2 linked regions of the Homo sapiens genome follow. The protein of the gene in region 1 purifies or fractionates together with the protein of each later gene. This does not show direct contact. Each region holds a gene or a part of one and is shown on either strand. Other genes may lie near its edges.

The links.
Region 2: the proteins of RRM1 (region 1) and ARL5B purify together in Homo sapiens (affinity purification with mass spectrometry; 2 studies listed by BioGRID and IntAct, with this or other methods). This does not show direct contact.

What each region holds. Positions count from the first base shown.
Region 1 is NC_000011.10:4,090,224-4,102,653, reverse strand, and holds the start of RRM1 (ribonucleoside-diphosphate reductase large subunit), read right to left. Parts: upstream 7,856-12,430; 5' UTR 7,642-7,855; coding exon 7,623-7,641; intron 662-7,622; coding exon 573-661; intron 1-572. Other genes in the region: STIM1 (stromal interaction molecule 1 isoform 1 precursor), read right to left, coding at 10,856-11,372. UniProt on the Homo sapiens protein: Provides the precursors necessary for DNA synthesis. Catalyzes the biosynthesis of deoxyribonucleotides from the corresponding ribonucleotides.
Region 2 is NC_000010.11:18,660,432-18,672,286, forward strand, and holds part of ARL5B (ADP-ribosylation factor-like protein 5B), read left to right. Parts: intron 1-6,143; coding exon 6,144-6,204; intron 6,205-8,098; coding exon 8,099-8,246; intron 8,247-11,855.

The sequences.
Region 1 (12,430 bases):
TTGAGAGGGAGTCTCGCTCTGTCGCCCAGGCTGGAGTGCAGTGGCACGATCTCGGCTCACTGCAACCTCTGCCTCCCAGGTTCAAGTGATTCTCCTGCCTCCCAAGTAGCTGGGATTACAGGCGCCCACCACCAGGCCCGGCTAATTTTTGCATTTTTAGTAGAGACGGGGTTTCACCATGTTGGCCAGGCTGGTCTTGAACTCCTGACCTCAGGTGATCTGCCCACCTCAGCCTCCCAAAGTGCTGGGATTACAGGCGTGAGCCACGGCGCCTGGCCTAGGCTTTTCCACTAATGAATAAAACAATTTACTCAAGGAAATATCTGATATTAAATGTTAATATCAAATTTTCCTCTTTACTCACATTCATAGTTCTCTGAAAAGTGAGAACTCACAGGACAGAACCAAAATTAAGGAAAAAAAAATGTTTTAAGCAATGAATTCAAATTTTATATCGAAGGGCATAGCCAGAATACCAAAGTATATCAGGTGAATGAAGGTCCAGGGATAAGAGACAAATGGAAAGAAACACATGAAAGAAGGAACCCAAGATAAAAACCATATTTACTTACAGGATCAACAAAATCCATATTGAGTCCATAACAAAGCTTCTGGATTCGAGATGTAATTTTGTCAAACATGACTCGTTCTTGGCGGCCATCTAAAGAATCAAATCATGTTAGCAATTATTAAATTCATGTTAGCAATTATTAAGACTACAATGTCAAAGAATCAAATGTAATTAACATGTAAATTGACCAACATGAAGTGCTATTTCACAGAAAAGATTGAGGCCCCCTCAAAAGATTCATGAAGAGATTGTCTTCTCTGATGTCACCTTCAAAGAGTATGAATTCTATACAGACAGACGTTTACGGATAATTTCCTAAATTTTTCCCCCATCCCACATGGCAGCCAAAATTACCCTTTAAAAGTTAAACTCAGAATCATATCATTACCTCCTTCAAAACTCCTAATAGTGGCTTATGATCTCCAGAATAAAAGTCAAAATTGTTATAACAATCCACAGGCCAGGCCTAGTGGCTCACACCTGTAATCCCAGCACTTTGGGAGGCCAAGGGAGCGGGGGGGGGTGTGGATCACTGGAGGTCAGGAGTTCGAGATCAGCCTGATCAATATGGTGAAACCCCGTCTCTACTAAAAATACAAAAAATTAGCTGGGCATGGTGGCAGGGGCCTATAATCCCAGCTATTCGGGAGGCTAAGGCAGGAGAATTGTTTGAACCCAGGAGGCGGAGGTTGCAGTGAGCTGAGATCACGCCATTGCATTCCAGCCTGGACAACAAGAATGAAACTCCAACTAAAAAAAAAAAAAAATCCACAGAATCCTATACCACTTGTCCTGTGCACCCACTTCCCAATTTCACCTCCAACTCTCCCACCTTCCTTCCTATTGTACCTTGACAACTTGGCCTTCTTGCTATATATCTCCTTTAGGTCTTTTGCTCAATGTCATCACCTTCTCAATGTGGCTTTCCCTGATGATTCCATTTTAAATTGCAATGCCCCAAATAGGACCCTTGCTCTTCTTATCCCCCTTCCCCTTCTGTGCTTTTTCTCCATTGCACTTACCCCATCTGACATACTATATATTTTACCTAATATTTTTCATGATTTTGGACTTAGATTATATCTTTGTCCTTCTAGACAAAAAAGTCTTACTACTCTTAGTTTAACCTCAAATAGTAGCTCATCCGACCTTTATTTATTCTTACCAGGAATAGTGAATATATCCAACCACCAAACAGCCTTAACCTTAGACAAGCCACAAAACACAATCAGTCATTTCACAGATCTTCATTTGTAGAAAGGGGTTAATTATTATATCTATTTTACTTGCCTAATCAGTTTACTGTGACAATAAAATTAGATAAGGTAAAAAGTGCTTTTGTTGTAACAACTTTGGCATAGTTACAACTATACCTCGTTATAAAATAAAGCTGCTCCTATGGGGGAAAAAAAAATCACAGTATGTGATACACAATAGGCACTCAATAAATGTTAGTGTCTCACACTGATTTAGTTTTTGTCTCTTTTGTGCACCTACAATCCATTGTAACTATAGGCTGAGTATCCTTAATCCAAAATTCCAAAATCCAAAACACTCCAAAATCCAAAACTTTTTCAATGCCAACACAATGTTCAAAGAAAATGTTCCTTGGACCATTTCAGATTTTGGATTTTCTGATTAGGGATGCCCAACCAGTAAGTATAATGCGAATATTCCAAAATCTGAAACAAATCCAAAATCCGAAACACTTCTGGGCCCAAGCATTTTGAATAAGGGATACTCAACCTGAAGTAACCAATAAGAAACATGCTAAATATGTTTACATTTATTTGGCCCTCTGATTCACATCTGTATTCTCAAATTTAGTGCCTAGAACAAGGCAAGTTCTCAAACATTTGATGAAGAATAAATGAACAATAAGACATCACTATTAACCCATTATCACTAGAACAAGTTGCTTTTTCTTCTACACTGATATGTTAGCCCCTCTCTTTCTGATCACCATTGTGATAATTTTCTCATCAGGCTCACATCTGCAGCATTTAACTCTGAAATGGGGTAAATTAACTGGCTGGCACTGGGACTGAAACCTCAGTGCTCTAGCAATTGGATAACTAAGCAGGCAGGTAACTGCAAAGCAACATTAGCGTTCTGCAATTATACATGCAGTGGGGGGGGAAAGCAACTTAGCAAAAAGAAAATTCTACAACTGCCAGAAGTTCTGAAGTCAATCAGGAAACTGACAAAAAAAAAAAAGTGCATTGGTAATTATCTTAACTCACACTTGAAAATAGGAGGCAGACTAAAGATCTAAAGGTCCAATGACACACAGTTCTCTATTCTGTCATTCCACTTGGTTAGTTTTTCAAGCCAGATGTTGATTTTATCACATCACTAATCCCTGCTTCTCACTGCCTACATTATCCTCTTCTCTCAAGCAAAGCCTTTCTTAGTTTGGCCCCAGATCTCTTCAACTGTTCCCTGTGAAATATAAGTCCCAAGAGGGCTTCCCATTCCCATATCCACATCATTGCTTATACCTTACTCTGCCTAAAGGTTCCTCTTCCACCTTTCCATACATCTAACTCCTACTCACCCTCCAAATCTCACACCTCCATAAAACCTGCCTCAACCACTTTTAACTCACACTGACCTTTTCCTCTTTTAAAATCCTCTAGCCAGCAGGGCATGGTGGCTCAGCCTGTATTCCTAGCACTTTGGGAGGCCAAAGCAGGCGGATCACCTGAGGTCAGGAGTTCGAGACCAGTCTAGCCAATATGGTGAAACCCCATCTCTACTAAAAATACAAAAAAAAAAAAAAAAAAATTAGCTGGGTATGCTGTAATCCCAGCTACTCGGGAGGCTGAGGCAGAATTGCCTGAACCTGGGAAGCAGAGGTTGCAGTAAGCCAAGATCACACCACTGCACTCCAGCCTGGGCAACAGAGCAAGACTCCGTCTCAAAAAATAAAAAATAAAATTAAAAAATCCTCTAGCATACTAGTGTGATTTCCTCTTGGCTATAAACTGTCTTTCATTCTTCTCTCTTCAGGAAGACTTCCCTAATCCTGTAAGACCAAGGATGCGTGCCTTTTCCACAGGATACAAACTTTCTAATTCCCTCTGCCGAGAATGTTCAGGCCACAGATCTCACATTACTAGCTCTTAATACTATTTAGGGTTCAGCTCAAATGTTGGCTTCTCAGAGAAGCCTTTCCTGGCTACCCAATCCAAGGTTATTTTCTCATTCATCTTTATCACATGATCCTGTTTTACTATCATCTCATTAATCAGTATCTGAAATTAACTGATTATTATGTTTACTTCTTATTTCTTATATACACTTACCACTCCCACCCACACCAAGAAGTCAACTCAATGAGAAATGTAATTTAGCTTTGTTCACTGCAGAATCTCTAATGCCTACAACGGTTCCTAGCACAAAGAGGTGCTGAATAAATGCTTTATGAATAACTGAATGAATGGCCTCTACTGCCTATACTTTACCTATCAGAGTATTTATCATATTTTATCATATTACTTCTTTATTTGTCTATCTTTCTCAATTGATTGTAGGATCTTTGGAAGCTGGAACCATGTCTGCCTACTCATCACTGCAATCCCGGTGAACAGCACGGTATCCACAGAGTTGTAAAATAATATTAGCAGGCTGTGAATGGAATAGGAAGGAAGGAAGGAAGGAAGGAGGAAGGGACGGAGGGAGGGGGAGAGGGAGGGGAGGGAGGGAGGAGGGCAGGAAAGAAGGGAGGGAGAAAGGAAGGAAGGAAGCAAGGAGGGAGGGAAGGAAGGGAGGGAGGAAGAAAGGGAGGAAGGAAGGGAGGGAGGGAGGCAGGGATAGGGAAAGAATCTGGAATAAAAGAAAGATTAGAGTGCAAATGGATGCTTTCAAAGACATTATTTCGTAAACTTTTGTATCATTTTATGTGTATCCACATATATACACATGTCTGTAAAATGTTTTGTTTTTTACTGTGAGTTACAATCCAAAGTTTTGAAAATACTACACTAAATTCCAAAACAGTTTACAACTCAGTTAGCTACTTTGTCATTTACTGCAATGGTTCTCAATGTTTATTTTTTTAACCATAATCTCCTTGAGGAATGATACTCTCCCATTAGGAAAAATAGCTCAAGATAGCAGATGAAAAAAACTCATCTACTATTCTCTTCTATCTAATAATTTTCATATGGATTGTTCCTAAATCCCTAACAATTTTAAGTTCTTTGAAGATAGAGCTGCCTTCTCCATTACTGCCCTCACAGTGTTTAGCAAGACATTAGCATATTCAGTAGGTACTTCAAAGTCAACTTCCAGTTGCCCTTGTTATTAAAAATAACAAAAACTAGCCAGGCGTGGTGGCACACATCTGTAGTCCCAGCTACTGAGGAGGCTGAGGCAGGAGAATCTCTTGAACCCAGGAGGCAGACACTGCAGTGAGCTGAGATCACACCACTGCACTCCAGCCTGGATGACAGAGCAAGACCCCATCTCAAAGAAAATTAACAAAAACTGTAGGAGTTAGTCTGCTATTCCACTGACATGCCAAAAATAAGGGGGTACAAAAAAAGTCCAGAAAACCAAAAACCCTATGCATATTAAAAAACATTAAAATATAGAAACATAGAAATATAAAAAAAAAAAGAAACAAACAAATCTAAGTACATGTTGTATATTAAGTCTTGCTGAATGCTACAATGGCAGAATCTACAGCATGAACCATCTGGATCAAATTGTGCTCTATGAAGGAATGAGAAAATAAGCTCTGCTTTTTAGAGCTAGTTATAGCTAGCACTTTGTGGTTTTTTTTTTTTTTTTTTTTTTTGAGACAGAGTGTCACTCTGTCGCCTAGACTGGAGTGCAATGGCACGATTTCAGCAACCTCTGCCTCCCAGGCTCAAGCGATTCTCCTGCCTCAGCCTCCTGAGTAGCTGGGATTACAGGTGCAAACCACTACCGTCCGGCTAACTTTTGTGTTTTTAGTAGAGACGGGGTTCCACCATGTTGGCCCAGCTGGTCTCAAACTCCACACCTCAAATGATCCACCCACCTCAGCCTCCCAAAGTGCTGGGATTACAGGCGTGAGCCACCATGCCCTGCCACGCCAGGCCAAGGTAGCACTTTTTAAACGAAAGTATTTAGAAGTAGACTCTAAAAGTTCAAAATTCAACACAGGGTTGAATTTTACCCATTCTGGTCATCTAAGTCCATACATTTTCAATTCATCTTTGTTACTGACTTATCATAGACCATCCTAAACATCTCTCCCATATCTAAAGATTTAAAAAATAGATGCTCAAGCCAGGTGCGGTGGCTCCCAGCACTGTAATCCAAGCACTTTGGGAGGCTGAAGTGGGAAGAATGCTTGAGCCCAGGAGTTCAAGACAAGCCTGGGCAACATAGCGAGACTCCTTCTCTAAAAAAATACAAATAAATAATAATGTAAAAAAATAAAAATACAAAAATAGATGCTCAGCTCTCACTCTTATGAATGGATCAATAAAAGTGCACTATGTTATTTTGCTCTTTGGTCAGCTAAAATGTGAGCTAGGAAAATTCACAGAATGATGTTCTCAAGATACCAAAAACAAGAAAGGCCACTACTGTCCACCTTTCCAACTCTTGTCTGTAGTTAAACCAATCTGGACATTGGCTGTAGTTAAACCAAATCAACTACCTGCTTATTCACAGCATTCATCGTGTCCTACATTTTGATACAACTATTTTCATTCATTCTTTAAGAATCTGTTCATGTCAGGTCCTGTGCTAAACGTGAACAGAAAAGTCTCCATCTTGCTTGTATTCCCAGCACTTTGGGAAGCCAAGGAAGGGAGGATGGTTTGAGGCCAGGAATTCAAGGCCAGACTGGGAAACACAGCAAGACTCCTTTACTACCAGAAATTTTTAAAAATTAGCCACTCATGGTGGTGCATGCCTATAGTCCCAGCTACTTGAGAGGCTGAGGCAAGAGCATCGCTTGAGCCCAGGACTTCAAGGTTACAGTAAGCTATGATTACACCACTGCATTCCATCCTGGGTGACAGAGCAAGACTCTGTCTCAAACAAGTCTCCATCTTTGAAATGTTCACAGCCTAGAGGACAAAATAGAAACAACCAGTCGATTAACCAGTATTTACTAAGTGCCTACAATTTTGAAATCATTGTATTGCTTTAACAAAGGCAAGTAGGTTCAACTCAAAACTTGTTCATACGTATCTCATGCGGTTGTTAAAAGTATGTTGCTCTTGTTTTTCCAACCCGATGAAGCCTGTTCCCAAGGCAGGGACTGTCTCCTCCTACAATCTCACAAAGCCAAGCAAAGGGCTGGGCACAAAGCGGGCACTTGGCAAGTCTAATGAAAAAGAACTGTTGAGAAAGAATACGAGTTCCTGACTCTTCCCAGTCCCCATCTTGTCAGAAGATGTCTCAGCCACCCTTCTCTGATTCAGCATCTCTTCCCATGAAGGGAAAGGAACTCGAGGGTGCTGTCTGTCTGGGATCTGTTTTTTCCACGCCACACTCCTATCCTCACCCCACAAAAGAGATCAGTAAACTGACAAGTGCCTACGGAGGGTAGAGAGGCCCCCTCCTTCTTTCCTAGCTGCCCCCCGACCCTGTGCCTAAGACAGCTCACCAACCCCACGGTTTTCAAATCAAACCGTATTGTCACCTATGGGTGACTTTGGGTCAGTCGGCGACACCTCGCTCTGAGCGTCAGTTTCCTCATCTGTAATAAGCTAATCATCTCTCAGAGGCTTGCAGGGAGGAATAAAATAGTGCCTGGCAAGTGCTCGGCGTACGCAGTCACTACTCGATACGGGGTAAGTGTTATCCTTTTGAAAGGCGGCAGGATGACAAAGCCGAGGGGGCGCAGCCTGAAGGCCCGAAGGAGGTTCGGGGCAGGCTGACTGAAGACAGAAGGCCGAGCGGGCTGACAGGGCGGAAGGCCGCGGCGGGAAATGCGGGAAAGGCGGGAAGCAGCGAAGGCGGGCGGGCGGTCTGGGCATCAGCTCCGGCGGCGGCAGCCCGCATCCCCTCACCTTCCTTCTCGCCCACCTCGTCCCCCCCTCACCTCGCTTGATCACATGCATCGCAGCTAGTGGCTGAGGCTCTGAAGGATCCAAGACTGGACTGCGGCTCTAAAGCGCCGGCGGGATCGAGAAGGTGACAGAGTGGGAAGGGTTAGGTTCCAGGCGCTGCTCAGGGGAAAGAACTGGAGTTGGAGCCAGACAGCACTTTCTTCAGAGCAGAGGCGCAACAATCCAAATCCCCTTCCCGCGCCCGCCACCCGTGACGCACAAAGGGGCGCGACGGGGTTCGAATGACGTTACTCGACGCTGCGGCCCACGCCCGGGGTAGGCTTCACAGACTGACAGGCGACGTGTAGCCGCCATGTTGAGTCTGGGCAAGACCCAGAAGACTACGCCTCTCCCATGGGCCCCATTGGATATGGACATGCCCGGCGGAAATGCTGCTCTCCTGCTACCATGTTTTGTGTGGGCAAGCCGAGTTCGGGACCCTCGGGGCCCTGGCGTAGCACCTAGAGCCCGCTGGGTCAGGCGCCGCCCTCTCACCTGCGCGTCTCCGCCGGAGGAAAGGCGGTTAATTTATTTTTGAAATAACAAAACCTAACCGGCGGGAACGTTTTTCTTGCTCTGACATTTATTATAATAATACTAACACTGCCGTCCGCTGTGGGCTCCAGCCCAGGCTCCACAGCCGTGGGCAGCTTGGAGCCCCAGGGCTTTTAGATCGGCCAGAGGACTGACACTCTGGAACTGGAAGAAAACCGCGCAAGGCCGATGGCGTTTGGATTTTATCCTGACGCAAATCAGAGCCCTGAGAGAATTTTAAGCAGGGCAGGGTCAGTACCCATTTGCTTTTAGGGTTCTTCAGTGGATGGTGGCAGAGACAGGGTATTTGCCTTGTGGAGGTAGGATGGACTTGGTGACTTAGAGTGGAGAATAAGAATAGATGAGAACCGTAATATGTAAGGCTGGTGTAGAAGCTTCTGATTTGGGCTACCCAAAGCGATCTTTATGAAATTTCATCTGTGGCATCTTTTCCCTAAAGCCTTTTCGTTGGTTTCTCACTGCCCTCCAGAAGCTGCCCAGGCTCCCTGTGAAGTAATTTCAAAAATCATGGAAAGTCGTAAGTGAGCCTGTAATTGCAGCATTTTGGGAGGCTAAGGCGGGAGCATCATGTGAGGCCAGGTGTTGAGATAAGCCTGGGCAACATAGTGAGACCCCATTTCTACAAAAAATAGAAAAAGTAGGCCAGCGCGGTGCTTCACTCCTGTAATCCCAGCACTATGGGAGGCCAAGGCGGGCAGATCACGAGGTCAGGAGTTCGAGACCAGCCTAACCAACGTGGTGAAACCCCCCCGCTGCTAAAAATACAAAAAGTAGCCAGGCATGGTAGCACGCGCCTGTAATCCCAGCTACTCAGGAGGCTGAGGCAGAAGAATCGCTTGAACGCTGGAGGCAGAGGTTGCAGTGAGCCAAGATCGCGCCATTGCACCCTAGCCTAGGCAAGAGAGTGAGACGCCGTCTCAAAAAAAACAAAAAAAAAGAAAGAAAAATTAAATAGATATGTTTTTTAAAAGTCGTAAGTGAAGTTATAGGATAGATAGGGTCAAGTTTACCCAGACATAGGGTTTCCCAATTTAGCAAATAAAAATGTGTCCCAGATACTGCATGAGAGAAAATTATACTTTAAAAACTGTTTATCTGAAATTCACATTTAACTGGTCATCCTGCATTTATCTGGTAACCCTGCCCACAGAGCTTCTGGGCATGTGCATTCAAGTTTCATTTTCCCTGGGCAAAGGAAAGATTGTCTCTTTATCCCATCATGCCACAGCACAGAGAACACAATGAGAGTCAAAGCCAGCAGTGGTTAAAATCTCCTACATGCTTTATTGGACTTCAAAGAATTTTATGAAATAACACAGAAAACCCCATTTGAGGGTGTCCAGGGAGTACAAGGCAGTCTGCAGCCTAGCACCCTCCTAAGACCAGCCCCAGGTATACCCACCCCAGGCCCAAAATAGGATCCCAGGATAAAGGTATGGCAGGGAGTGGGGCAGAGGAAAAATACCTTTACAGCCATAGCAAAAACAGGTAAGGGAGAGAGTTGTCTAGAGGGTGGGAAGGGTGGGGGAAAGTGGTCACACAGCCGCCTTCACCTATACCATCTTCCTTAGCCACCCCTTCCCCAAACTGGTTGTGTCCTTTTTGAGCCTCTGGCCAAGGCTACAAAGTAACATGAAAATGGGATCTAACAAGGGGAATATGCAGCGTAGGCACTTGGGAAATTCAGATTACTTTTTTTCCTTTTAACCTGTTTGTCTTTTGGTTCAAAAAATGACAGCATCCTTGCCCAACAACTCCAGGGCTCCATAAGAGCCCTGTATCATGGCTGTGGCTCTCCTGGCCAGGGGAGCCACTTGTCCTGAGCCCTAGGAGTATTGATGCTTGGGGAGCTTTGGGGCAGCACCTCTTAGAGACAAATCCTCCTGCAGTGTGGGGGAGCAGGGGTAAGAGGGAGGCAGGTGTGGGTGGGAGTAGAGAGAAAAAGTGACTGCCTTATAACCTACAGTTCTGGCATCCACTCATGCTCCAATGAACAGATGCCTCTCCCAACCCATTCCCAAGCCTGGCCTCTCTTTAAAAGTCTCTGGTGGGTTGTTCTCTGAGAATTGGTTTCACTCCCCCATGGATCCCTGGAGGCCTGAGTGAGATTAGGATGAGGCTCCTTCTGACCCACATCAATACCAAAGAACAAACTTCAAAGATTAGGCCCTAGCCCCAGTCTGGAGCAAACAGAACCACTGTGAGTGGGGTGGAACAGATCTGAGGCACACATGTCAGAAGCTACTCGTCCTATCTTCCCTGCAACTGCTAGGGGAAGTTGGGGAGTGGTGGGAGGGAGGAGCCCGAAAGCAAGAGACAGAAACAAGAAACCAAACCTCAAAACTGGGACAGCAGAGACAGAAGCTGAACCCCAGAGGTGGAGCTGGGAGCTGAGGGAACAGCAACTAAGACATGCACTGAAGTGGAGAGGGAGTGACAGCAGCAGCCCATGGTTGGGACGGAGGCAGGGCAGGCAGGCCATGGTGGTCAGTTAATAAATAATAATGAAGGACCCAAGGATGAGGGGGCAGGTATGTACAGTGCCCAGACCCCTGGACCAGCCCTTCCCATGCCCCACTCTTGGGGCCAGTTATCTTGAAGGAAGGGAGGGAAGGAGAGACAGAACACCCAGGGAAGGACAAGCTGTCCCTTTACTGCCACCCCATCCTGCCTACTTCTTAAGAGGCTTCTTAAAGATTTTGAGGGGAAACTTCTTCCGGCCTGGGCTGGAGTCTGTTTCCTCGCCAATAGAGCCATTATCCTCCTCAGCCACAGCCTTCTTGCCAGCCAGGTGGGGAATGCGTGTGTTTCGGCTGGCTTGCAGGGCTCGGCTGTCCCCAACTGGAGATGGTGTGTCTGGGTCTGGGGAGCTGGGGCTGTGAGAACGGGAAGAATCCAAATGTGGAGAGCCACCAGGTGGGGCTGAGGGGCTCAGCTCCATCAGGCTGTGGGCCTTGTCCAGCCCATGGTTCAGCGCCAGTAATGCCTTCTTGGCCAGGGCAGGGCTGTCAGGCAGTTTCTCCACCAGAGACCCTGGGTGGACCCCCTCGATCAGCCGGTGGCTGCCATTGGAAGTCATGGCATTGAGAGCCTCGTCTGCAGCACGGCTCATCTGAGGAGGTTTGGGGGCCACACGCTGGCGGTCACTCATGTGGAGGGAGGACTCCGAATCGGAATGGGTCAAATCCCTGCAAGACATGGGGCAGAGAGGAAGAAAGGGACATATATTGGATGAGGTGATAGGGGAAAGGCGAAGAGGAGAGAGGGACAACACGAGAAGACAAGGACAGGGTAGGAAAATGGGGATAGAGCGGCAGGAGAGAGAAATAGGATGAACAGGCAGGTGGGAAGGAGAGAGGAAAGAGGAATAGACAGAAGTTGAGCAGCCATAAGTATAGGATAAGAGAGGAGGCAGGAGGAGGGAATGAGGATAGATTGGAAAAGAGACAGGAAAAGGAGAGTAGAATTGTAGAGGAAGAAAAGCAAAAGGATAAGCAGGTAGAAAGAAGGGCCAAGAGAGAAAGACAAGAAAGGGAAAAGTGATAGGGAGGGAAGAAACAGATAAGAAACAAAAACAAATGTCATCATACCATCATCTGTCTGGCAAATGGTTTTCCAATACCTGGGCCCCACCAGTGGTGAATGCTCTGGCTCTGAACTGGTGCAGCCATAGGCTTAAATTCCACAGGCGGCATCCTCAATAAAATCTCTGCCTTCTCATAGCTGGCTGTATTTCCTGGGACTCAAGCTAACACAGAACCTACAGCCTGCTCCGAGTCACCATTTTCCATGCCTTCCTTCCCCACTTACTCCTGTCACACCTTAGGATATTATCCAGTCTGGGCCAGGCCCCAAGGAACAGGGCACATGCAGTCAGTGGACCTGACCCAGGCTGGAGATGAGAAGGTTAGAACAGCCTTGCAAATAATCCTTCACCCACCCCAAAAGGCCAGGATGCTGCCTCTTCTAACCATCTCATAGGATTCAAAGGAGGTCATAGATAGGTATTGCAGAGTTCAAACCAAAGTCTGTGGTGCGGCAGGAAGGGTGGGGTCTCTTTCAGAACTCTGCTGACGGAGAATGTAGGGAGGCATAGAAAGACAGGATGTTGGCCTTTAAAGAGCAGTGGTTCAGAAGAGGTCTGGACTCCTGTGTGATCTTGGACAAGTCAAGTCATCTAAACTTGCTAGTCCTTAACTTTGGCCTAATGAAGATAATACCAATTCAATTTATCTTACAAGACTGT
Region 2 (11,855 bases), on another chromosome or scaffold:
ATAAGTTAAAGTTTGAGGCGTCCTTTGAACAGAATGGTTTCTTAGTAATTGAAACCAGTTTTGAAAATCAACTCGTTTCATTTTACATTTAAGAGCCGGGCATCGTTAATAAGCCAGTTTTATTTCCTTTTATGTTGGTACCAATTTGTTACTGCTAATGTAGGTATCTAATCTTTTTCTGGATTTAAGAAGTTGTGGAGGTAATGGAATGGCTTTAGTTGACTTGTTCTGTAGATTGATAAGAACACTAAAGCAGTCTTTTTCAAGGTTATAAATATAGATACAGGCACACACATGTGTATATATATGTATATGCCTGTATCCAGTAACCACAGATAATATTACTTATCAAATGATTTCAAAGTGAGCAGAGCTTCACACTTTGTGGGTATTATCCATACATTTAAAATATTATTTTTATTTATTTATTTTTTGAGGCAGAGTCTTTCTCTGTCGCCCAGGCTTCAGTGCAGTGGCGCAATCTCAGCTCACTGCAACCTCTGCATCCTGGGTTCAAGCGATTCTTGTTCCTCAGCCTCCCGAGTAACTGGTATTTACAGGCACCCGCCACCACGCCCGGCCTATTTTTGTATCTTTAGTAGAGACAGGGTTTCGCCATGTTGGGCAGGCTGGTCTCGACCTTCTGACTTCAGGTGATCTACCCACCTCGGCCTCCCAAAGTGCTGGAATTACAGGTGTGAGCCACCGCGCCCAGCGGTAAAACAGCATTTTAAGACATGCTTAAAGGTATAAAGATTAATACAAAAATCACCAGTTTTCTCTTTCCCCTGAGCTGGAGAATCGAAACGTTACCGAAGTAGTTGGTTTTCCCTTTATATCCTTTCCCGTTTTCCTTTCTCCCTTTTCTGTTACATGGCTGCTGTCTTGTCTTTTTTCGTTGGAGGTGTCCTTACTCAGACTAGAGGTAATAAAAGATGTAAGGGGAAAATGTAGATGGTGATGAAAGACATCCAGTGGCTACTTTTATACTCGCATAATTGTTCAGGCCTCCTGAATCTCCATTTCTACTTAGAATTTTTCTCTTCCTCTAACTTTCCTGTTGGAAAATTTAGAACCAGTGATTATTCTGTTATTTTATTCTTATTCATTCATACAGCCATAGGCCAGTCTTCAGAGTTTAGCATAGGAGATACAAAATTAAAGAATAAAGATACCTTACTTCTTGGCAAAGTATTCAAACATCAATAAACGAGACAAACATGAAAAAAAATGCAGTGTGGTAAATTATTTAACAGATATGTGTAAAAATATAACGTTGGCTGCAGCACAAGGTATACTTGGACGTAATGTAATGATGAGTAGGAATTTGGGTGGCATGCTAGACAGACCGAATAGAAGGGACGTGTTATTCTAGGCAGAAGAGCTAATATGCAAAAGGGAGAGGAATGAGCTAGTTTGGTACTTTTAGGGAAGCTGAAAATAGTTGAGCTTGGCTGTGTGTTAGTTTGCTTGCGAGGAGTGAAGAGGAGATGAGATTGGAAAGACAACCAGGAGAACCTTATCACAGAGGGCCTCCAGTGTTGACTAAGACATTAAACTCTCTAGAGCAAGGAATGGGACTCACTGAAGGGTTTAATCCACAGATGTATCTTAGCCTATATTTTTGTTTTCTGCATCAACAAAATTAACTACCAATCTCAGCATTTTCCATTTTTGTAACTATATTTATCTATTCCAGTGGAATTAGATATATTAGAATAACAGGCCCAAAGCGCCACCTCACACCAACTAAATTAGATTGGGGTGAAGAGGCCTGGGCATCACTGCCAAGGTAAATCGAATGTGCAGCCAGTGTTAAGAACTACTGATCTTACTTTATGTGCTCCTTTCCCGTGTCTTTCTTCCAGTATTTCCACATTCTCATCCTTTTTTTTCCTGTAGCATTTTAGAGTCTCATGCGTCTTATAAATTAGATACCTTTCTGTGAATAAGTATACTAAAGCGTGTGTTGTCTAAGTAAAGCAATGTAAAAGTTAATTCCTGCAATTTTGTATTGTTTGAACTGGAAGCCTGTTTACTTCGACAGTTATTATTCAAGGAAATAATTTGGAATTCTGATTATCTCTGCAAACATTTTATATGTTAATGTAGTTCTGTGAAATACATATGTGTTATGTGTGTTTGATAGCTCACCTCTAAAGTTTTGCATTGTTTTTTAAATTTCTTTTGAACTTTTGTAGGCATAGTCTTTTTCTCTCAGTGTTATGATTGTGGAAACCTGTCATCAGTTATTTCTTTTTTTGTTGTTTGTTTGTTTTTTTTTTTTAATGAGATGGAGTCTCACTCTGTCACCCAGGCTGGAGTGCAGTGGTGCGATCTCGGTCCACTGCAACCTCCATCTCCTGGGTTCAAGCAATTCTCCTGCCTCAGCCTCCTGAGTAGTTGGGATTACAGGCGCACACCACCACTCCGGCTAATTTTTGTATTTTTAGTAGAGGTGGGGTTTCACCATGTTGGTCAGGCTGGTTTTGAACTCCTGACCTCAGGTAATCCGCCCGCCTTGGCCTCCCAAAGTGCTAGGATTACAGACGTGAACCACTATGCCTGGCCCAGTGATGTCTTTAAATTTTATTTATTATTGTTATATTTTCTGTCACCCAGGCTGGAGTGTAGTCCTGTGATCTCAGCTCACTGCCACCTTTGCCTCCCAAGTTCAAGCAATTCTCCTGCCCCACCCTCTGGAGTAGATGGGATTACAAGCACCTGCCACCATGCCTGGCTAATTTTCGTATTTGTAGTAGAGATGGATTTTACCATGTTGGCTAGGCTGGCCTCGAACTCCTGACCTCAGGTGATCTACTCGCCTCCCAAAGTGCTGGGATTACAGGCGTGAGCCACTGCACCTGGCCAGTTATTTCTAGTGTTACCCAGAATTAAGAACAAATGAAATACAGTTTTAATTGTAGTTCTTTTTCAGAACCATGTAACAGTAACATCTTAATTTCATAATTTAATCATTTCTTTCCAATCCATGAATTTCATGTTATCATTTTGAACACTGGTTGCCAATTGCGTATGATTATTGTCCTTTACTTCTGACTGCTCAGATCTCAGATCTTGTGGCTCACATTTCTCTCTTTAGCTTATTCTGCTCTTTTTTTTTTTTTTTTTTTTGAGATGGAGTCTCTCTCTGTCGCCCAGGCTGGAGTGCAGTGGCGTTATCTCGGCTCACTGCAAGCTCTGCCTCCCGGGTTCATGCCATTCTCCTGCCTCAGCCTCCCAAGTAGCTGGGACTACAGGTGTCTGCCACCACGCCCGGCTGATTTTCTGTATTTTTAGTAGAGACGGGGTTTCACCATGTTAGCTAGGATGGTCTCGATCTCCTGACCTTGTGATCCTCCCACCTCGGCCTCCCAAAGTGCTGGGATTACAGGTGTGAGCTACTGCGCCCGGCCCCAGCTTATTCTGCTCTTAACTCTGGACTGTAAGCAGGTTTCAAACACACTAAACTTAAACTTATCATCTATCTGCATCCTGTCTTCCAGACCATTCTTTGTTTTTGTTTTGTTTTGTTTTGTTTGAGACGGAGTGTTGCTCTGTCACCAGGCTGGAGTGCAGTGGTGCAATCTCAGCTCACTGCCACCTCTGCCTCCCAGGTTCAAGTGATTCTCCTGCCTCAGCCTCCCAAGTAACTAGGACTATAGGCACCTGCCACCATGCCCGGCTAAGTTTTGTATTTTTAGTAGAGACGGAGTTTCACCAAATTAGCCAGGTTGGTCTTGAACTCCTGACCTTGTGGTCTGCCCACCTCAGCCTACTGAAGTGCTGGGATTACAGGTGTGAGCCACCATGCCTGACCTGGCTAACTTTTTTCTTAAGAGATGGGATATTACTGTATTGCCCAGTTTGGTCTCAAACTCCTAGATTTAACTGATCACTTCTCCTTGGCCTCCCAAAGTGTTGGAATTACAGGTGTGAGTCATTGCACCTGGCCTAAAACATTCTGATTTACTGTAACTGATAGTAACAGTAGTGTCTTTTTTTTTTTTTTTTTTTTTTTTTTGAGATGGAGTCTCGCTCTGTTGCCCAGGCTGGAGCACAGTGACCCGATCTCGGCTCACCGCAAGCTCCGTCTTCCGGGTTCATGCCATTCTTCTGCTTCAACCTCCCAAGTAGCTGGGACTACAGGCACCCGCCACCATGCCCGGCTAATTTTTTTGTATTTTTTGTAGAGACAGGGTTTCACCGTGTTAGCCAGGATGGTCTTGATCTCCTGACCTCGTGATCCTCCCACCTCGGCCTCCCAAAGTGCTAAGATTACAGGCGTAAGGCACCACGCCTGGCCTAACAGTAGTGTCTTAACCTAACATTTCCTCATGTTAGGGACCTACCTTTCAAAATGGTGCATTATTGGTGAGTTTTACCATCACAGGCCTTCAGTATTATGTGAAGCATCATAGTGCAAAAGTGAAGCAAGGAGCAGGATTGTTTGCAAATGACCTGGGTCTTCATTTGAGTTGCTTCAAGAAGGAGCCATCTGGTACTGTCCTTCCATTCCTTTCTCCCAACAGGATTATCTGCCTTCAAGTTTTGCTTATCTTTAAACTAGTGGCTTCCTTCTCACCACTGCAGGCATGTTGTTTTCTGTAGATGCTTGGTAGGTGGAGCTTCTAGCTGTCACCAAAATTTAGAATGCTTAGTGCCAGGCAGTCTGTTTGTTCCTCACTGATAAAGGTTCTTGTACTTTAAGGGATAACAAACAGGGTAATACTTAAAGATTAGCTTCATTAGAGGACATGTAGCCAAGCTTGGTGGTGTGCACCTGTGGTCCCAGCTATTCAGGAGGTTCAGGTAGGAGGATCACTTGAGCCTGGGAGGTCGAGGCTGCAGTGATCATGCCCCTGCACTCCAGCCTGGGCAACAAAGCAAGACCCTGTCTCAAATAAATAAGGAGAATTATAGTGAGTTATACTAAGCAGGCAAGTTTTGTTTTGTTTTACAAAGCAGCTTCTACCATAGTGAAAATAGCCCTTCCAGAGGACCGTGTCTGTTTATCCTGCACTGTAATAGGCTGTATCTAGAGTGTGTAGGTCATTGGAAGACCTGCACATCTCAAGAACTTAAATTTTCTTGGTCCCTCTTTTTTTGGCTGATGAAGTTTAGAACTTCAGAGTAGGAATATGAGCTGATAGTTGATTATATGACCAGAATGTTGACATTCACCAGAGGTCATCAAGAAGAGCGGGATTCTGATATGAGATGTGCCCAATCGTTGCCTACAAATCAACTGTGTTGTGATTCTGTGGAAACTTCCCTACTTACCCTGTTGATGTTAACTTGTAACTTTTTAAGCATTCTTCTGCCTTGGAGAAGGGGATCTTTAGTATACTTGGCATAAGTGAAAATCTAGGAAAGATGGTATCTGGGTTGTTTTCTGTATTCAAAGGACATTGCAGAATATATACCACTTAACGGAATAATTAGATGAGCTTTAGCAACTACTTATTAAAAGAGGTGAATATTTAGTGCATGGCACCCAAAGGAGGAAAGAACTGAAGAGATTTTCATTGTACAAAGAGCAGAAACAGAATCTGCTCAAAAGAACTGTAGAAGCCGGTTGAAAAAATGTTAAACAATGAGTAATTGTGTAAAAACTTGAGAGTATATGTTTGTCTTTGTGACACATGAAACGTTTCAATTTTAAGCTTACATGGGATTTTTAAGTGAGAGGAAGAAACAGATCCTGGTATACATAGGTGGGGAAACTTACAGATATGAAAACATTTTGATAAAAAGCTAACTTGATTGGTACAGAGCTAAAAAGGTGTGTAAAACAGGCTTTTTAAAAAACTTACATTTAGGTTATAATTTTTGCCTAGATTAATATTTGGGTCTCCTCTCCCCTAGATGCAATATAAGTGACCAACTTTGCTGGTGTTTCCTGCCTACCCATCTCCCACATTCTTTTACATGAGAACTAGACAGAGAATCAATGATAATTGATTTTGTTACTTAACCTAGGTAGCCTTAACATCATAACATTTCTTTCTGCATTTTAAGTCTAGTGATAGATATTCAGTGAATGATTCTCATTAATGAGCTAACTAATAATCATTGTTGAAAGCATGTAATTGCAGTAATGCAGTAGTGTTAAATGTTTATGATTTGCTTTCTTTTTGTAGAACACAAAGTAATTATAGTGGGACTGGATAATGCAGGGAAAACCACCATTCTTTACCAATTGTAAGTATGGGTGTTTATTAAACAGTTTTCACTAGTTATTGAAACTAATGTGTTTACAATTAATAAGAGATGCATTATAATAATGACGGAAAAACTTAAATATATGTTTTTTGTTTTTTGTTTTTTTAATTTTACCGAACACAATCTATAGAAAAGTGAGTGAAATAAACATTTGCTAAACCCTTCACAAACACTTATTGTTTTCTGCCCTCGAAAGAAAGAAATTAATATTAAATAAATAAAGCGCATATTAGAAGTGCTGGGGTGAGGTGATAAAGTGGATTTCACTTAGTTCTTACCCCACTTGGGTTTATGTAAATAAATTGATAGCTCTAGGAAGCCATTGCTACCCTCCTGACTAATAGCTTTGGAATTTTTTAACATAGCCAGACTTGTCAAAAGAAATGTGATCACTCCTGAAAATATTGCTGTAGTAGCTTGCAAGAGGGAGAGTCTTGAGACTTTCAGAGAAATCTGTTAATACCTTAGGAAATTTTCACAGCTCATCATTCCACTTGTCAGAGTACCTTCCATTATCCTTTCAATGCCAATGAAATGATAGTATTAAGCAGTAGAAGTGGATCTACCAGGCACTTTAACAAAATAGTTCTACAGTTCTTTGCCCCATTGTGTGGCTCTTACCTCTTCCCACTCATGTTGCATTAGAAGACAGCCATCAGCTCACCAGAAGTACTTCATTAGCCAGTGATTAACGCATTTTTCAGCTACTTTGCTAAAAAGCTACTGACTTAAAGTTTGTTGTTTCAGAGTTGAACAACTACTTGTTTCTCTTGAAAACATTTTCATTCATTGGTGATTATGTGTTTAAATATGAATTAGCTTTTAAACATCACATATAAACATTTCAGAAACCTGTCATCTTTGTTGAAATAATTTTACACATGGCTTCAAAAATATACATAAAACCCAAGAGAATTGCAAGCCTCCTCCAACACAGTAGTGACATGTTACTGGCAAGGGCATATTTGTTGAATTAATTGATTAATGTAGCTTTACCAATGATTATGATAATACGAGGGGTATGAGCATCAGTATTCTAAATATATATATATATATATACACACACACACAAACACACACACACACATATTTGAGACAGAGTTTTGCTCTGTTTCTAAGGGTGGAGTGCAATGGCGTGATCTCCACCTCCCAGGTTCAGGCGGTTCTCCTGCCTCAGCTTCCAGAGTAGCTGGGATTACAAGCGCCCACCACCACGCCCTGCAAATTTTTGTATTTTTAGTAGAGACGAGGCTTCACCATGTTGGTCAGGATGGTCTCAAGTTCTTGACCTCAGGTGATCCACCCAAAGTGCTAGAATTATAGGTGTGAGCCACCACACCTGGCCTTCTAAATATATCTATAGTTAATTTAAATTTTTACTTGCCCATGGTCATCTTTTTAGGACTACTTTAGATTAATATGCCTGAATTAATTTTTGTGACTAAGTCTCAATTTAGACAGTCTTCAAAATTATAGATAGCCTGCTATCCAATATTTGCTATTTTGCAATCACCTAGAAACTTGCTTTTCAGGATGGCATGGGACATTGGGTCTTATCTAACTGATAACAGGGCATGGTGGTATTGGAATTTTTGGCCACAGAAATGCAAATTCACACCACACTGTTTCCTTTCTTTTCCATCAAGCTTGCAATTCCTTCCGTTAAAAAAAAAAACAAACAAGAAACAAGTCTTTCTTCTGGAGTTGTTATCTAGATATTGATTTGCGCAAGTGTTCTCCAGGTTTATAATTTTCATGCTAATGATCACCATCATTGGTGCAGAAGGTTGATTGATCTTAAAAATACAGAGATAAAAGTTGCTTCAGATTCTCAAGATTTACAAGAGCTTTTACGGTGTCTGTTTTTCAACAGCTTAATGAATGAAGTGGTTCATACTTCTCCAACCATAGGAAGCAATGTTGAAGAAATAGTTGTGAAGAACACTCATTTTCTTATGTGGGATATTGGTGGTCAGGAGTCTCTGCGATCATCCTGGAACACATATTACTCAAATACAGAGGTATGCTAAGATGAATTTTGAATTTTAATCCAAAGGTCCCTAGAGTAAACATAGAAAGTAATTAGGCTGCACCTGGGCGTATTGACAGTTGCCTTTTTTTTTTTTTTTTTTAAGACGGAGTCTTGCTCTGTCGCCAGGCTAGAGTGCAGTGGAGTGATCTTGGCTCGCTGCAAGCTCCGCCTGCTGAGTTCAAGCCATTCTCCTGCCTCAGCCTCCCAAATAGCAGGAATTACAGGCGAGTGCCACCACACCCGGCTAATTTTTGTATGTTTAGTAGAGACCGGGGTTTCACCATATTGATCAGGTTGGTCTTGAATTCGGGACCTCGTGATCCACCCTCCTTGGCCTCCCAAAGTGCTGGGATTACAGGCTTGAGCCACCGTGGCCGGCCTTTTAATAAGATCCTTTTTTGTAGGGAATTTGGGTTTCCTTTTTTTAAAAAATAAATAAATAAAAATTTCATAAATGAGACTTAAGAATTTGGGTTTTCGAATAAAAGAAAAGGCAAATAGAAAGATTGTTTGGAGCTATTATTACTTGAGTGCTTACTGTTTGGCCAGGTTCTCTCCATTCATCTTCACAAGATTTTCATGTCTCCAGGGTTGGAGAGATCTGACACGTGGAGATATTATGTAGGTTTCCCCAAGATCTCACAACTTTCTAAGAGACCCTGACCGGTGGAGGAATAAAATATTTTATTAATTTAAAAATTTTTTATACCATGAACATTCAAAATGTTGGTAGATTTTTTTTTAATTAGAAAAAAGTAGATTTGCAAATCATCTCTCAAAGTTCTCTGCCACTTATGAGTTCAGAGCTAACTTGGGGAACAAACCTGGATATATTCATGTTCTATTTCTGCTTTTATTTCTTATTAGAGGCAGATTTTTTTAAAAGCCATTCAATGTAGTTTAGAGAGATTTATCCTTGATAGTATGATTTCACAATTGCATCCATTTAATTGTTCTTTGCAAAGAAGTACACCTAACCAATTATTTTTTTCTAAAATGAAACCTTTTAAAAATTGGAGTTGGGCCAGACACGGTGGCTCACGCCTGTAATCCCAGCACTTTGGGAGGCCGAGGCGGGTGGATCATGAGGTCAGGAGATTGAGGCCATCCTGGCTAACACAGGTGAAACCCCGTCTCTACTAAAAATACAAAAAACTAGCCGGGCGTGGTGGGGCAGACTTGTAGTCCCCAGCTACTCAGGAGGCTGAGGCAGGAGAATCGCTTGAACCCAGGAGGCAGAGTTTGCAGTGAGCCGAGGTGGCACCACTGCACTCCAGCCTGGGTGACAAAACGAGACTCTTATCTCAAAAAAAAAAAAAAAAAAAATTGGAGTTGGAAGGGAAGAGGTAGAAAAGGATATAATATGAATAATTTTTGGTGAACAAAGTTGCCTCTTTAAAAAACATGTATTGTTCTAGATTTATATTATAATAGCATGTGTGTATGTGTGTATATATTCCAATGCAACGTGTAAGTAAACAAAGATGGCGTATCATAGATAATCAGAACTTGTGGTAGCACTGAATTATTTTATTGGGTATGCAGAAGCTGTAAGCAAATAATATAGTTAAAGGGTAGCTTATACATTTATACAGTAAAATAATGTTCTGAAACTAGAATAAGTTAGAAAGTAAGGGAAGGGCCAGGCGCAGTGGCTCACTTCTGTAATCCCAGCACTTTGGTAGGCCGAGGTGGGCAGATTGCTTGAGGCCAGGAGTTCAAGACCAGCATGGCCAACATGGCAAAACCCCATCTCTACTAAAAATACAAAAATTAGCCAGGCATGGTGGCATGTGCCTGTAGTCCCAGCTACTCCAGAGGCTGAGGCATGAGAATCGCTTGAACCTGGGAGGCGGAGGTGGCAGTGAGCTGAGATAGCACCACTGCACTCCAGCCTGGGTGGCAGAGTCTCGCTCTCTCTCAAAAAAAAAGAAAAGAAAGTAAGGGACAAATGACATTGTAGCATATGATTAATTTAAACATCAGAGCTGTTAGTAGTTTTAAGCTCACAGTTAACTCCAGCTGTGAAAAGGGCAGTTATCATTGATGAATAGGTCAAAGTTGATTCTAGTGAATCCATATGTACTTAAAGTGTGTCGAAAGGGTAGTTCTTGAAGTGACTGAAACTCTGGAGGACTTAGCATGGGTCCAGAAAGAGATATCCATTACTGATGCCATTTGCATGAAACGTTCTTTTAATAAGTGATCTCTACAAGAATATCAAAATTACTACAAAGAACAGTGGCGCCTGTCACTTTGCATTTTGAAAATTCTTCACGTGGAAGAGTCCCCCAAAAGCGGTAGTATGTCCATTATAATACAAGAAGTTACAGGTATTAAGTAATTATTGACACCTTCCTCTCATTAACTCACAGTTGTTTCCCATATTCTGTTGATTCCTCCTTTGCCACGCGACATTCTTTCCGTTTATTCCCTTCTAAGCCCAACTCAGTTTATATTCAGATTAGTTGTCTGTTTCCCTAATTTTATTTATTTTTGTTTTTTATTTATTTATTTTTTTGAGATGGAGTCTCAGTCTGTCACCCAGGCTGGAGAGCAGTGCAGCCTCCGCCTCCCAGGTTCAAAGGATTCTCCTCCCTCAGCCTCCGAAGTAGCAGGGACTACAGTACACACCACCACACCTGGCTGATTTTTGTGTTTTTAATAGAGACAGGGTTTCACCATGTTGGCCAGGTTGGTCTTGAACTGTCCTCAAGTGATATGCCCACCTCGGCCTACCAAAGTGCTGGGATTACAGGTGTGAGCCACTGCACCTAGCCTGTTTCCCTAATTTTAAAGTCATCTCTGTAATCTAATTCTACCCTTCATGTCTCAGTTTATTTTGCATCTATCTCCTGCTGTAATAACATCATTTCATCTCATTTCTTAACTTTTTATTCTGTATACAGTGTTCAGCTTAAGGGTGCTTTTTCGCTGTATCATCTCCTCCATCTCCTCCTCCTCCTCCCCCTCACCCACCCCCCACATTTTTTAAAAAATGAGTTAGGGCCTCTCTCTCACCCAGGCTGGAGTGTAGTTGCATGATTCTCAGTACAGCCTCAACTTCCTAGGCTCAAAGCAGTCCTCCCACCTTAGCCTCCCAAGTAGGTGGGACTATGTGCATGGCTAATTTTTATTTTTTGTAGAGAGACAGGTTCTCACTATGTTGCCCAAGCTAGTCTCAAACTCCTGGGCTCAAGCAGTCATCCCACCTCACCTCCCAGAGTGCTGGGATTATATGTGTGTGAGCCACAATGCCTGGCCTATATCTTCTTATTTTTTAATATGCAAACTCCCTTTTTTCATGTATAGCTTTACCAACAGATTTCTCCTCTTTTTTCTGGTGTCTTGCCTTTATTTAATTTCACCTGAATCTCCAGTATATAATGCCTAAGTATATATGTTTCAATCTGGAGCATTTATGGTGGATACTGTTTTATAAAATTGTCTTATTTTTAAAATGCATTTATCTTTTTCTTTCAAACTAGCTTTTCTTTCTAAGAGTTAGGAGATTGTGGTATACACAAGTAAGCAATTATTGACTGTTTAGATGAATGATAATGGAGTACTTTGAAGTTTTAGTGAAAAATATTATTGA